2 separate regions of the Homo sapiens genome follow, and region 2 is linked to region 1. Evidence: fine-mapped expression QTL. Tissue or cell type: whole blood. Region 1 holds a variant in brackets; the other region holds the start of a gene. All regions are shown on one strand. Distances are between the middles of the regions.

Evidence for each region. PIP is the estimated chance that this variant, and not a neighbour inherited with it, causes the effect.
Region 2: WNT7A starts here. The variant in region 1 is fine-mapped to the expression of WNT7A in whole blood (INTERVAL, PIP above 0.99).

What each region holds. Positions count from the first base shown.
Region 1 is chr3:13,766,403-13,774,502 of GRCh38, reverse strand. No RefSeq gene overlaps it. Among named protein-coding and RNA genes, the nearest start is that of WNT7A, 110 kb to the left of the region's middle. RefSeq lists an enhancer at 674-1,174. The variant T/C (reference allele first, on the strand shown) is at 4,176.
Region 2 is chr3:13,875,194-13,883,285 of GRCh38, reverse strand. WNT7A (Wnt family member 7A) reads left to right here and starts at 3,215. Exons shown (of 4, transcript NM_004625.4): 1 at 3,215-3,540. The coding sequence starts at 3,470. RefSeq lists enhancers at 3,237-3,738, 4,241-4,742.

The DNA of each region.
Region 1 (8,100 bases):
GCTGAGGTAGAAGGATCACTTGAGCCTAGGAGGTATAGGTCACCGTGAGCCCAGATCGCACCCTTGCTAAACACTTACAGGCACCTCACTTGTTGGGCAATCCCACACCCACTGGTGGTCAGCCCCAGCCAGGCAATAGGACAGGCACTCAGCCACGGGTCCCTCAACCCAAGTAGGAACCATAAAACTGCACAGCTGCAAATACACCCACCCACTCATCCCACACACATGTTCATCTCTCTCTTTCTCTTTCTCTCTTTCTCTCTCTCTCTCTCTCTCTCACACACACACACACACACACACACACACACCCTATCTGGGCTCAGACCAAATATAGATACTCATACCCACCCAGTCATACACAAATAGCCCTCACACCTTCACCCCTGCGCACTCACAGCTCTCTCCCTCACTGCCACTGACTCAGCACCTCCCCGTGGTGCTAAGCACACACCGTGTACACATCCCACCCCACACACAGTCTCCCCACCTCTTCCAGTAGCTGCCCAGTTGAGCCACACACTCACAGTCCAGCACTGCCACACACCCAAACCAAATGCACCGACAACCCCACAGCACAGACACATACCATCATGCTGTGGTGCATGCGCACCCACAGTCGGCCCCCACTAAAGATCAACCCCCGCCCTCCTCCAAGACACACTCAGATGCGCAGGCACACGCTGCCCTGACACACACACTGAGCACACTCAGATGCACACCCACCTGCTCAGATATGTCCCATCTAAATTCACTCACACATCCAGTTCCGCTCAGCCACTGCAGTGTGCAGCCACTACACTGCACACACACACGTGCACACACGTGTGCACACTCACGCTCTCCCAGCCACAGCAGCACAGGGCTTCCGTTGCCTCCAATGGACTCTCACCTTTCCCAGATGATCTGCAGGCCCCAGAGCAGCTGGGCATCCTCTCCCGATGGCAGGCAAACTCCAGTGCCAGGTGCCTGGACAGGTGGCCATGAGGGGCAGTGACCTCCTAGTGCCCCCAGCAACCCCTGCTGCTTGTGTCCCAGGCCCTGCTCAACCCTCTCCCAATTTTTGGAACCACATAAAATATTAAGATAAAAATAATTCCCAGGAGGCAGATCCTTTGGTAATTATGTGCAGGTGTGGAATCACTCCTGGCTCCCTGGCTGCCCACCACCCTACCTCCCATGTATGGGGGGTGATCATTCCAAAGCCAGCCACCCATTAATCCCTGTAACGGGCCAGGCCTGCCCGCCTGCCCGCCCGCCTGGCAGCCCACACTCAAAACCCAGCTCCCCAGGAAAGCAGGGGAGCGCGCCCAGCAATCCCATGGGGCCAGGCCTGGCGCCATTTGCAAGGGCCTCACGCTCACCCTGCGAGGGAAGCTCTGTGATTCATACCCACCTCCCAGAGCAGGAAACTGAGGCTGTGAGCAGGGCTATGACATGCCCAAAGTCACAGGTAATCTGGGGGCACCCCACCCCCTGGTCCTGCAGAATGCGGCTTCTTCCCCGTCTGCATCTCCCAGCAGAAAGAGCAGAGACAGGCAGGGAGTCACCGGAGGAGGAACCAGGCTGGAGATAGGCTTCAAGGAGCAGCTGGAGAATTCATCATGGTCCCCAGTCCCTGTAGGGCTGTTTTACATCTCTGTCCCCAAGGACAGAGTCCTGGCCTGGGAAGGGGCAGGGTCACAGGAAGACAAACTCAACTTGCCCTGTGGAGAGCAGCTATCCCCATCCTGAGCCGCTGTGAAGAAGCAACTGCCTCGTGCTGGGAGGTGTGCAAGCTGGGGCTGGCCAGCCATCCTCTGCGGGGACTATCTTAGCTGGATTGGTGGCTGGCTGACCTTCCAGCACCCCTGCAGCAGGGATACCCAGGGTCCCTTGTTCTCCTCATCACTCCAGGTGGCCCCATTCTGAGTACCCTGGGAGCAGCAGCCACCATGCCCGCCATGACCACAGAGTCTATGGAAGGCCACATCCACTCGGGAGCAGCCAGGCCCCCGACAAGCCCTCCTGCCAGCTTCCACCACTACCCAGGGTCCCCAGCTCCCAGCCTCATCGTCCTCCTTGCTGCCCCAAACACCCCTACACCTTTGCCTGGCTCTTCTCCCCCTGGGCTGCCCTGCCCTGCCCTGCAGACACCCATGCAGCCTTCTCACCAGTGGGAACACGTCTGCCCCTGGGAATCAGTCCTTCTTCTATCAACCCCAGCAGTGGCCACCCCTGCCCTGGAAGCCAACAGTGCCCCTCTGACACCCTCCCATCATCCGTCTCACTTCACTGGAGCTATCTGACATCCCTCTCAAGGACCCCCCGTGCCATGTCCACTTGTGTGTCCCCAAGCCCCTCTGGCCCCCGCCCCCACCCTGAGGCTTGGAGACTTCCTGCCCAAGCCAGTCTCAGCTCCTGCATTCGCACCACCTCCATAGGAATGGTGAAGACAGTGGGCTCATTCTGGAGGCGATTCCTTTCATCCGCTGTCCAGCTCTGGTGCTGGTCAGGAAAGGGCTGTGCCCAGCTCCCCTGCCCGCTGGAGCTCCCAAGACAGCCTCATGGAGGACACCCCATTTTGAACCTTTAGGCAGAAAACAAGACCCTCATAGGACAGACAGGGAAACTGAGGCTCCTGCCGCCCATAGGCAGAGGCAGTGTCTGGACCCGAGATCAGTTCTCATCTCCCTGTAGTACTCTGGCCACCCACCGTGGGCTCACCCCTCCCTTCCTCCCCGCCTTCCCTCAAGGTTAAGCACTTGAGCACAATGCGGGCACAGGGCACCCCTTCATTCATTCATAATCTCTACATGTGTGGGGTACAGCAGCCACAAAACGGGCACAAATCCCTGCCCTCACAGAGCTGGTGTTTTCCTGGGGAGGGTGGATAATAAACAGATGAACAAGTAAACCCGCGATGTGGCAGACGGGTGAGGGCCAGGAAGAAAACCAGGTCAGGTGATGGTGCCCCAGTGTGTGAGGCACCTGTGTAATTCTACACTTTCTCATAGCTGCTTGGACAAAAGCAAGAAGAAACGGATGGAACTAATATTAACAATATAGGTGATTTAACCTATTAGGTCCAAATATTATCATGTCAACATGCCATCAATGCAAAAAATGATTAATAAGTTATTTTGTCGTTTTCATGCCATGTCTGTGAAATCAGTGCATACTGGACATTATGCACACCTGGACTGTCACTGGGCACATTTCAGGTACTCAAGACTACACATTGCTTGTGGCTGCTGTATTGGACAGTGCATGTCTAGGGGACTGCGGAGCAGCTAGGGGTGTTTCTCATACAAGGGTGGTCGGAGAAGGCCTCTCGGAGGAAGTGATTTCTGATCAGGGCCCTGGAAACAAAGCAATAAACCAGGCAGCTGAATGGGGAAGACTTACCCCAGGCAGAAGAAACAGCAGGGGCAAAGGCCCTGAGGCAGGCTCAGGGCAGCAGCTGGAGCAGAGTGAGCAGGAGGGAGACTGGAGGAGACCTGGCTCAGTCAGGGCTGTGGCCTCTGTGAGAATTCCACTTTTCCTCTCAGCAGGCGGGAGCTATGCAGGGTGTTAGGCAGACAGCTTGGCCCCAGCCTGGCTCAGGTTTGAAGAAAGCACAGGGCATCACTGCACAAGCTTTAGCCCCAGATGGCCAGGTGTGAAGTTCACTGCACAGTGCCAGGCACGTGGTGGGCATCCTCTAAAAGCAAAAGTTAGCCCACGCTCCATGAGTCTGATTCTTCAGGTAACACACATCCCAGGTGCCAAGGCTCTGGGCTTCTCTACTTCTTGAAAAAAGGGGTTGGGGGGATCTCTTGGCCTCCCACCCTCCAAGCTTTTCTGACTTTGGCCTATTTCCACATTCCTGGAATTGCTGCAGGTGATAAATGGCTCTGCAGCCAGGCTGTCCTCAGGCATTCTGACATGCAGCCTCCACTTCCTCTGCCCTATGGTGGGAGGGGGCTGGGCAGGGCCTCTGACCCCACCAGGAAGCTGCAGCACCCTATCCTGGCCTCAGGGCTCCCCACCCCCACCCCATCGTGCAGGGACAACCCAGCCTCTGATTCCTGACTCCTGAGCATAGGGCCATGGGCAAGGCCTTCTCCCCTCTGGTCTGCATATTCTCTGCTCTGTACAGAACCCACGGCCTCATTCATCCAATAAATACTTAGTGAGTGCCTGTTCCTAGCCCA[T/C]ACTGCTGTAGCTATGGGGATTAAAGAATGGACGAGACAGACAGAGGCGCCTGCCCTGTGGAATGGGCCTTCCAGGTTGTAGAGGTCACTTAGCGACCCCCTAGTCCTCATTTCATGGGATACTCAGAACCCCTGGTCTCTCTGACCGCATGTCAGGGAAGACCCTCTTCTTGCCCACCCTGCAACCCAGAATGGCATCTTCTCAGGGCTTCCCCACTCTGGAGGGAAAACCCCATACGAGAGTTTTAGGCTAGAAGCAAGAAGGACTCACTGATCACCTGGGGAACAAACCCTGAAATAGGAAAGGAAAATGCATTTTAAAAATATGCATTACTAGAAAAAAAGAAAAGAAAAGGTGTACTGGCCAGATCCCATCTGTTAATAGCAGCTAACTCTTGGGGAAGGCTGCAGGATTCTGAGTCTTTGCTGGTCTTTTACTGTCCTATTTTCCAGGTTTTCTGCTATGCATATATATCTACTGTATACTCAAGGGTTTAACCAAGAAAGACAATAAAATGTGATAAAACAATCCCAGTTTTAAAAACTAGCACCCCTTGAACCTCCTGGCATAAGTGCGTCTGGCTGGCAGGACCAGAAACTCACGAGACGGTGCCACTGCTCAGACTGACCCTAACCCGGGAAGCTGGGAGATTGGGATTGGACGCCAGAGCAGGGCCTGTGGAAAGGGAGAAAAGGCAGGACAGCCCTGTGAGGGAGGCAAGGGCACAGCCAGCCGTGAAGGGTGAGGTCAGCGGAGGGCATGGGGGTCAGGAGCCCCAGGCCCTGCACTGGTCCTGTAGGCACTGGGAAGTCACTGAAGGCATGTGAGCAGGAGAGGGTGGTGGTCTAGAAGGAACAGCAAGGCCTCTCCCAAGTTCCTCTTCCATTCTCCTTTACGGCATTGCAGCCACACTTCTTCAGAAGTCCTCAGCCTTCTCTGAAAGGGGCTCTCGGGCCCAACAGCCCAGGTTCAAATCCTAAGTTTACACTTCCTAGCTGCGTGTGGTGTCCTCAGCCTGTGAAAATACCAACCTTGTGGTTGGCTGAGAGCCTTAGGTGAGTTAAAACATGAAAAGCACTGGAAACAGGGCCTGGCATACAGTAAGTGCTTAATAAATGCTGGTCACTGTTATTCCCTCCCCATAGCATCAGCAGGTTTTAATCTCTTGTATCACTTTGAAAGTTTCCCTAAGGCAAAGACCGGCTCAGACTGGGTCTGTCACCAGGTAGGTGCCGAGAATTATTTGTCAGACAAAGCAGTAAGCAGCCATCTTGCCTTCCCTCCAGAGACAGAGTCCAAGGCCCCCTCCTCTCTTTATCTGAGGTGCCTTGCACAGGCCAAGCCCATGGCTGCTGGGAACCAATACCTGGGGGTCCCGTGAAGATAGGGCCACGACTCCACTCAGCTCTTTCTCTATCTCTCTTGTCTCCTCCGGAACTCTGTGAGGGAGGCGACTCTTATCTCCACCTTACAGAAGAGGAAACTGAGGCTCAAAGGCGTGAAGGGCCTGCTCTAGACGAAGCCCACCAACCCAGTCCTTCTGTCAAGGGTCCCCTGCAGTGCCTTGTGCAGGCCTGGCACCTACTGGGCACTGTAATACATCTTCCAAGGCAAAGGAGACTCGGCTGGAGAGGGCGGAGCCCGGGTGGGGGTAGGGGTGGAGAAAAGAGAAGCCCTCTGGTTTTCCAGGTAATGAAGCCGGCCAGGAACACCAGGTGAGGAGCAGCAGAGATAGCAGGGGCGCCTCTGGCCTTTCATCTGGAGCCCACGGCCCGGCCTTCCTCCCCAACTCCTCAGTGGGGGGCCCCATGAGCGCTCACCTGGAGCTATAAACGGGCTGGTTCTGAGGCCCACCTGTGCCTGGCAGGTTTGCCAAGACCAGAGAGCAGGAGGGTCCCAAGAAGGAAGCGTCGCTCACCTCCGGCTCCCCATGCCAAACTTCTGAAGCCCTAAAAAGCTCCCAGACCTTCCCTCTGCCAAACCTCACCTGCCTGCCTGTCAGCCACCCCCTCCCCCAGCCCAGCTGGGGTTGGAAGCCTGGAAGCCTGGCTGGGTATCTGTTAACCAGAGACCAGACCCCTCCAAGCCTCAGTTTCCACCTTGGGAAAGGGCAGGGAGAGCATTCCAGGGTATGTCAAGGAGACAACTCCAGTCTGGGGGTGTTAATGCCAAGGGTCCACCCTGAGGTCTGGCCAGGCCTTCCCAGCTGTGGGGAGGAAGCTGGCATCCTCACGCCCAGGGCTGTCAGCTGCTCTGCGGTTCTGAGCTGGAGTGGAGTGCAGCAGGCAGGCTGGCTGGGTGGTCCCTAGGGAGGCAGCCGGGAAACCAGGCCCTGACAGCAGGCTCAGCCTTGACCTGGGGCTGTGTGGATGCTGTCGGCTCCATCCCAAGACAATGACAGGAGGCTGGGAGCTCTGTTTATTGAGCACCTGTTGTATGCCAGAAGCATTAGAGAGGCCAGGCCCCAGGCAGGGGTCAGGAGGCTGGGAATTCTAACCCAGATCTGAAGCTCTGGATCCCAGCAGCAACTGGGAATCAGTTTTCCGCAGGTGGGGCCCACCCAGAGAGGGCACCAATGCAGCTTTCCTTGTGCCTTTTTTCACCGTGCACCAGAGAGCTGAGATTCAGAAGATGGATTTTCTAGAAAAACAGGTATGGAGTGGAATGATGGGTGCGTACCCTGCCCTAGCATAGGGGAGCGATGAGCCTCACCTCACGATAATAGTTGGCCCATGCGAGTATTTTCTTTCCTTTCCTTTCTTTTCTTTTCTTTTTTTCTTTTTCTTTTTTCTTTTTTTTTTTGTCTTCAAAGTGACTTGCAGAACCCAGGCTAATTAATTTTCCCCAGAGCAGTGAGGGCCATCACCTGTCTCCTACCCCAGTGTCCCACCCCAGCCCCCAAGCACATCTGAGGGAAGGAGATAGCAGAGAGGATAATTCAGCTGGCAGAAGCCTGGGGGAGGAATGAGGGTGGGACTGGCCCCCAGGAGGCAGCCCGAGGTGCAGGGGGAGAAGCGGGATTAGAGGAAGCAGGAGGGCTGGGCGCAGGCAGGCCTCCACCCGCCCATCAGCAGCAGGCACCTGGCCCACCTTTGCAGAGTCGCCTCCACCACTGGAACATCCATTGTGCCAGCACCACCTCTGGACTGTGCTCTGCTCAGGGGAGAGACCATCCTGGCCTCTGCCCTAGGTCTGGCAGCTGAAAACATTTGCTCATTCATTCACTCACTTACCTTGCTCATTTAGCTAACCAACAAAAATGGTTAGCCCCTGGTCTGAGCCCCCCGGGCCTTGCATTAGGAACAGGGGGTACAAACAACAATGAAACCCAGTCTCTAGCTCTGGGGAGGGCCCAGTCTATAGCAGGATAGACCATCAGTCAACAGGAATGAGCAGTGGGGCAGAAGGAAGCACAAATGAGAGATGGAGCAGAGGCCCGGAGGCTTGGAGCCTCAGAGGAGTTTCACAGAAGAGGCAACACCTGGGCTTTGAGGGGTAAGTAGGAGTTTGCCAGGAAGATATGAGCAGATAGGGAGGGCATTTAGGTAGAGAAGACAGCAAGTACAAAAACATGGAGTTAGATAGGGTCTGAGGTGTCTGGGAAGCAAGAGGAGTGGAGGGAGTGAAGATGGGGACGGGTTGTCCATGGTGGGGCATGCAACTCTTGGGGCCTCAAGCAGTGCTTCCCAGCTTTCACCCCATCCTACCATGGTGTGCAGAGAGATGGTGGCATGCATTGGCTCGTCTCATCATTGGTGGGAAATAGAAGGCACTGAGGCCACTCGGCCCCCTCCAGCTACCTGGAGTCAGCTCGGTACAGATGCTCCATGGTTTACAATAAACCCAGCACAAATCAAAAATAAACCTCACCTACCAAACATGGTAGCTTAGCGAGCCTCCCTTACACACATTCAGAACACTTAC
Region 2 (8,092 bases), 110 kb before region 1:
TGGCTGTGATAATGATATCAACAAGTGGAGTACCTACCCCTTGGCATTTTCAGGGGATTCAGTGAGTTGATATGCTGAGGCTGTAAATGACAGTGCCTGGCATGTAATAGTGCTACCTATGTGTTTGATCATGAAATCGGTCCTCAGATGGGTTGCTCCAGGAGGGGCAGAGACTGGATTTATTTGATATACTGATCTGTCTTGGCCATATTCTTCCCTGCTGTGTTCCTCCTCTTCTTCCTCCTCCTCCTCTCTCATCTTCCGATGTACCCAGCACCTGCATGGGCTATTGGTATGTGCCTAGCACCTGGCCTGACATCCGGTCACAAGTACACCCCAGCATTCATGACATGAGTGAAACTTTGGTCTAGGAATGATGGTGAATGCAGAAAATAAAGGTCATATTTGGAGATTCTTTGGAGGTAGACTGCTCAGGGCTTGTGCTGACTTCATCTGAGGGTGGAAGAGGAGGAAGAGGAGGAGGAACAATGCAGGAGGGAAGAACATGGTCAGGACAGACCTTGTGATTTCCTTTACCAAACTCTTAGCTCCTCCAACCATCTCCAGATCATTACAAGCCACCTCCATTCACCCAAATACTCCAGCCAACATCGGGGTCACCTATCATTCCTCTTTCTCTTTCTCTACCCACCCCCACCGAATCCTTTCAAGTCCTGTCTGTGCAAGACACAGGCCCCGTATCCTGGGTCCTTTTCTCCTCTCTGCACCCCACTTCTACCCTTATTGTCCTAGTTACAACTGCTGTGTAACAAGCATCCCCTCCAAACTTAGTGGCAAAATAATCATTATATTCACAAGTTATAGGGCTCAGGAAGTTGGGCAGGGTACACTGGGGATACTACACGGCCACTGTCCACCATGCTTTAGCTTGGCAGACACAAAGCCAGCATGACATAATGGTGGAGGTACCTTCACCCACATTTCTGGCACCTGGGCAAGGTGACTCCAGTGCTGAACTCACCTGGGACTGTGGGCTGGAGCAAGCACAGGTGGCCTCTGCCTATGCCTGGGCTTCCTCACAGCATGGTGGCCTCTAGGCCTCTTCCATGGTGGCTCAGGGCCCCAGCACTGGTGCGCCAGCCAACAAAACAAAGACTGCATTGTCTTTTATCGCGAAGACTTGTAATTTTTGAGCATCACTTCTGCTACATCTTATTGGTGGAAGCCATCACAAGCCCACCCAGATTCACGCAGGCAGAGCACAGAGAACCCACTTCTTCATGGGAGGAGTGTCAAATAATTTTGTGGTCATGTTCTAAGAGCACCACCCTAACCCAAACTACCAATGTCTCACCTGGACCCCTACTGTCATCTCCTCTCTGGTCTGCTTGATGGCGCACTTTACTCACCTGTCCCCATTCCCACAGTGTGTTCCCTTAGGACAGCCACGGGGAGCTTTTGAACACACAAATCAGATCAGTCACCCCCTTCTTCATCCCTCCAATGTCCCCAGCTGAACACACCACTGAAATCCAAGCTCCTTGACGTGCCCACACAGCTTTGTGGATCTGTGTATCCCCATCTCCCTTCAAGCTCAGGCCTTCTCTCTCTCTCTATTGCAGCCCACCATCTCCTCCCTGGGGCTCATGCCCACCTCTGAGCTTTTGCACCTGCTGGTCCCCTTCCTGCAGTGCTGGACCCCTGATGCTGTGTCCTTCAGGCCTCACCTCAAATGCCACCTCCTCAGATCTAAAATTAACCCTCCAACACCCAGTATTCCCTCTCCCATCACCCTGCTTAATGGTCTACTATCTGCAACTCTGTTCTTGTTCACTTATCATCTGTCTCCTTCCTGGCCCCAAGAAGAAAGACTGTTGCCTTTCTTCTTCCTTGTGTCCACGGTGCCCACTATCGTGGTTGGCACAGAATATGGAATATGAATGAATACCTGAATGGTGGCTTTCGGGTGTGTGTGTGTGTGTGTGTGTGTGTAATTTAGAAAGGCAATCTTGAAGGATAGTCAGGACTGGGTGCAGGAGGTTACTACAGTTGGGCATACTTTGTTTCCCATATGGTTGTGCCACTCGCTAGCTGGTGACTCTGGGCAAACACCTTCACCTCCTTGAGCCTCAGTGTCTTCAGCTGAAACCTGAGTTCAGATTTGCCAGACCTGGGCATAGGGACAGCAGGTCCAGCAGGAACACCAAGCCAGGACCACAGCCACTCCCAGGGAGCTCAGTCCCTGGAGCCCGAGAGGAACACTCTCCGGAGGCGCAGGCGCAGCCGCTCCTAGAGACTGGGCAACCCCCAGGTGGCAGGCGGGACCGGTCCGTGCAAACAGGGAACAGGTACCCGGAGGATGGACATTCGCTGGCAAAAACATAAACTGCCGCTCGGAGTCTTGGCACCACCCAATTTCCAGGGACGGTTAGACTCCCCCTAGCTCACTGGATGAGGTGTACACCAAAGAAGGGTGTTAGCCCCCTCGGGTCGGCCAGGGCACTCAAAGCATTCTGTTCCCGGGAGCGAGGCCGAGGTGCACCACCCGCCGCGTCCGCCTGGTGACGCCGCGAGCGCGCTCTGAGCGGCCAGCTGCGCCCCTCACGCTCCCGCGGCTCAGGCGCCCCACTGCTGTTCCGCGCGGGGCAACTGGGCCTCAGCCCGACTCAGTCTGTCGGCTAACAGCAGGATCCCAGAGGAGGCTGCCCAACCTGGGCACCCCCTGCCGCCACTCTCGAATAGGTGGGAGTAGGGAAGAAATACACTGAGCCAGTCAGCCCGTCGCTCCGCGAAAGGGGGCGCCCTCCCCTGAAGCTGGGGTTGGGGAACTGGGGTGTGCCCTGTCAGCCCCAGCTCCCTGTTCCGGGCTGGAGGGAGCAGGGCAGCAGACCAAGGCACTAGGCCTCTCGGCCGAGTCTGGTCCACTCCACCCGAGGGCAGCCTCTGGACGCCCACTCGCCCTGCAATCTGCAAGTTAGTGACGGGTGGGGGGCGAGCGGGCTCCTACCGCCTCCAACCGGGCTGTGCTCCCCAGCCTGCCACCTGCACCCCGGAGCAGGGAGGGGGCCCCCGGGAGCGCGCATGGAAAGGCGCGAGCGCGCGCCTTGTGCAGGCGGCCCTGTCCCGCGGGCGCAGGGGCGCTGGGCGGGCGCTCCGGGGAGGCGGGCGGGGGAGGGGGCGGGGGAGGGACGGGGGAAAGGAGGGAGGGGCGGGGGCTGGAGGCAGCAGCGCCCCCGCACTCCCCGCGTCTCGCACACTTGCACCGGTCGCTCGCGCGCAGCCCGGCGTCGCCCCACGCCGCGCTCGCTCCTCCCTCCCTCCTCCCGCTCCGTGGCTCCCGTGCTCCTGGCGAGGCTCAGGCGCGGAGCGCGCGGACGGGCGCACCGACAGACGGCCCCGGGGACGCCTCGGCTCGCGCCTCCCGGGCGGGCTATGTTGATTGCCCCGCCGGGGCCGGCCCGCGGGATCAGCACAGCCCGGCCCGCGGCCCCGGCGGCCAATCGGGACTATGAACCGGAAAGCGCGGCGCTGCCTGGGCCACCTCTTTCTCAGCCTGGGCATGGTCTACCTCCGGATCGGGTAAGGGCTGCCTGCGCCCTTTCCGCGCGTGTTTCGACAAAGTTGGCACGGCCCGGGGAGGGAGGTGTGCCGCCTGCGAGCCTCTGCCGGCCAACTTCCACAGCTTCTCTGAGAGGCCGGGTGGGTGCGGTGTGGGAGCGGTGGACGCACAAAGGCCCCCCGCAGGACACCCCAGGAGATATAGGCAGGGGGACTGGCCATCCTGAGGACGTCTGAGTCTGGAATCCCCCAGGACCAGAGACAGCCGGTAGGGACGCTCCAGCCTGAGGGACTCTGGGGGAGGGCTAGCTGCTGCAAAGGTTCAGCCCATCCCGGGGACCCTTCGGACCCGGGCATAGGGACAGCAGGTCTAGCAGGAACATCAAGCCAGGACCACAGCCAATCTCGGGGAGCTCAGTCCCCGGAGCCCGAGACGAACTCTCTCAGGAGGCGCGGCACAGCCGTTCCTAGAGACTGGGCAGTCCCCAGGTGGCTGGCGGGGCCGGTCCGTGCAAACAGGGAACAGGTACCCAGGAGGAAGGACATTCGCTGGCAAAAACATAAACCGCCGCTCGGAGCCTTGGCACCACCCAATTTCCAGGGGCCCTTAGACTCCCAGAGCCCCTTCCCGGGCCAAGGGGACAGCACGTCCCACCCCCAACAAACACACACAAAGGTGGGACGAGAGGCGGTCTGAGACACAGAGGGAGACAAGCGCTAGAGAGAGGCGGGACACCCCGCCCCCTGGAACTGGGCAGCAGAGGCGGCCGGGCGCGCGAGCAGCCCTCCGGCTTCACCTAGCGTTTCTGTGGAGGTGGGGCTCGGGGGCGCTCTGGCTGGAAGGTGGGAGGGGGCAGCTCGGGACGCGTCCTGGAGCTGCTTGTGCAAAGCCGGTCACCCTTTGTACTTAAGACAACGCGTGTGAGGCTCGGAGCGGTGTGGGGGCGGGGGGATCTGGGCATGGATAGAGGTTCTGGCGCTGAAGGGCCCGCTTGGTAGGTCTCACACACCCTGCCCCTCCAGCCCCCAGCAGTGAACCCATTACCATCCCTTTTGAGGAGGGGTGGACCGCAGGGGCTGCGGCGAGGGGATGTGCGTGGCAGACCCTTTGTGTTTTGTCACTACTACCCCCCTACCCCGTCACTTCCCCAGTCCACGTCTCTGGAGCGGGGATTTCGCAAGTTGTCCGGCCGCGGCCGCTAGCAGGTGCGTGCAGAGCCGACCAGGGGCCGCCAGCCCGACCAGCGGCGGAGAGGCGGCTGCGGGGCTCGCGCCAGTACCGCCAGCCTGCCGGTGTGTTTTAAGTGTTATTGATTCGCCCGCGTCTGGGTGGCTTTCCTTTTTTTCCCCTGCTTTAATCTTCATCTTGGCCCGCGCCCCGCCGCCCCGCGCACATTCAGCATCCAGGAAGCCAGTAGGGCCGATTGGCTCGAGCCGATTGACTCGGGCCGCGTGCGGCTTTATCTCCTTTTTAATTAGAAACGGGGAGGAGGGACACGGGTGGCGGGGGAGACAGAAAGGGAAAACAGCAGAAAATAACCTCCCCTGGCCGCCCCGCCCGCCCGCGGGCCGCCCTCCCGCCGGCGCCGCGGCCTCCCCGGATTGGCCCTGCGGGGGCCCAGCTGCCCGGCAGGGAGGGAGGGAGGGAGTCCTGCAGGGCGCTGGCTTTCCGCCCCAAGCTGCCCTCTGGGGTAGGGAGAGGTCCAGGTCGGAGAGGTGGGAGTTGCAGGTGACTTCGGGCCAGGCCCTGCTGCTCCCTGCGCCTCGGGCTACTCATCTGTATAGTGGACATGAGGGGTGAAGTCTCAACGTCCCTAAAAGGTTTTTCCATTTCCCCAGACGTGACGGCTCTACCCGCTTCTGGCTGATGGTGGGGCATCTGCGGTATTCTTATTTTGCTCGGATAGTTCAGGTGACTCCGCACTAGCCTATTGCAACAATCAGATCCGATAACGATAATGATAATTACAACACCACCACCACATTTATGGGGCACTCACTATGTGCCTGGCACCTTCTAAGCACTTTCCATGTTCTAGCACATTTGATTTTCACAGCAGCCAATGAGGTGGGGACTAGTTATCAATACCCTAATTTAGCCATGGAGAAACTGAAGTGCAGAGGGAAGGAAACTTGCCTAAGATCGCACAACTAATAAGTGAAGGAAGCTTGGATGAGAACCTAGGCCAGACCCTTAGGGGCTAGTCTATTGCACCTATGAATTTTTGGCCCCAGTATGCCAACCTATCCACTCTCAGCTGGTGTAGAAATTTCCTGGTGGCCAGCTAGGTGCTCAGAGGGTCCTCCTGACAAATGATGCCAAAACGTCTCCACTTAATCTTCTCATGCTGCTTCTTCCTCAGACATTCCCAGCATTCTAGTGTGTGTTAGACTCGGGTTTAGCGCTGAGATGCCAGTGCAAAGCCAGGCTGTCCCACCTCCAACACCTGCTAGCTGAGAACCTTCCTCCAGGTCCCAACCTCTGTGAGCCTCAATTTTCAAATATGTGAAACGGATGTGATGATTCTTGCCCCACAGGGCTGTGTGGAAAGGTCACATGAGCTGCTGTTTGTGGCAGCACCCACCATACTGCCTTGGCACATAGTAGGGACACTGCCCAAGTTTACTGATGCATTTGATGCATATTTGGGGGGCACCTGCCATGTAATAGGTACTCACCCGGAGCCACATCTTTGAAGTGCCACAATCCATTTATTCAGCAGTCATTTAGTGAACCAGCAGACAGCCTCCCTGCCCTCAGGGAGCTCATCCTCTCAGGAGGAAGACAAGTGATCAAGTGAGCATGCAAATTAAAAACACAGACATGAAAACATTTCAGTAGACCATGAGTAATCAAGAATATCCAGTAAACAAAACAGAGATTGTGATGGGAATTTATTAGGGGTAGGGAGGGGAGGGAGGAGCCCTTAGCTGGGCTGGTCAGGGAGGTGACCCTTGAGGTCATGTGAATAATGGCAAGAAGCCAAGCTTGTGAAGATCAGGGGTGAGAGCGCTTCCAGGGAGAGGAGGAGCAAGGACAGAGTGCCTACTGCAGGGAGAAGGCTGGCACGTGGCAGGAGCCTAGGGAAACGGCAGGAGTGATCAGTTGTGCGCTTGGAGGGCATGGGTCCATGTCACCTCCTTGAGTTATTGGTACAGGAGAACCTCACTCTAACAAATTGCAACTCCAGAAAACTGCCCACAGCTGAGCCCCAGGACGAGGCACTTGTCCAGTGGCTCTACCTGCAGCCCTACCACTGCCACCAAGCCAAGCCACCACCAACCCTAACCTGCCTAGTCCCTCTGCTCCTGCTCTGGCACCCCACAGGTCTTTCCTACATGGAGTGGGGACCACCAGGTCATGTCAGTGTCCTGCTTACACCCTTCAGTGCTTCCTGGTGCTGCCTGATGCACCTGAGAAAATGCCAGCCCTCAGCCATCTCCTCTTCCCAGGATCTCCCTGCATCTCAAGCCCTGGCTTTGTAGCAGTTTCCATGGGTTCTTTCTATTCCTTGAAGACCCCGAACTTGTCTCCTAGAACTTTGCATTTTCTGTTCCCTCTGCATAGAATACCCTTCTCCAGATCTTCCCACAGATGCCTCCTGGCAATTCAGATCTCTGTTCTGTTCTAATGTCAACTCCTCAAGGAAGTCCTCTTGATCACCTCAGCTAAAGTGGCCCTCACTTTCCTCACCACCCCCACACCCCAGTTGCCATCCCAGCATCTTCCTTTACTTTCTTCATAGTACATATCACTGTCGAGATGGCCTGTTTTATTCATTTGTGACATCTGTGTTGTCACCCTCCCTAGTTCCTTGAGGGCAGGGCATTGCCTGTCAGGTGCACAGCTGTCTCCTAGCATGGTACGTGGCACATGATGGGTATCCGATATATATCAGTGAATAGTTGAGGAAGATAGGAATTCTCCTCATAATAGTCGCACACATCCTCTAGGCCAGTCATGCCCGGAGTGGGATACATGTACTCCATTGACAGCAGGAAGAAAATGCCAGGACTTCTACTTACAATTACTTTTTAAGTTTTTTTTCCAACAATAAAACATATACATACATGAGAGTATATGTTACATATACATTAAAAAACAGATTTTTTTAATGAACATCTGTGCACCCATCACTCCTTCAAAGGCACCTGCTGCATGAAACTTTGAAGTCATCATTTCCTTGCTTGCCTTTACAATTTTACCAAAGAGATGATTCCCTAGCAATATAGAGCTTCTTTTGCATGTTTTTGAACTTCATCTCAATTGCATCCTACCATAAACTCAAAGGCAACTTGCCTTTTTTACTCCATGTAATGTTTGTGACATACATCATCTTTTTTTGTTTCTAAAACAAAAATCAAGTGTGTGTATGTTTCACTGATATTGGGTATACGCATTGATTCAAGAGCCTATGTAGAAATTATAGGGTTTCTATTCGAATGGACATGAGTTAGGGGTGCAGGATCAAAAAAGTTGGGAGACCACTGCTGGGGGCAGTGGGGTGGCCAGTGCTGGACACCTACGAAGGGTTCCCAGGCCATGCCCCCTTGCTGGCCTAATGCTCCATCT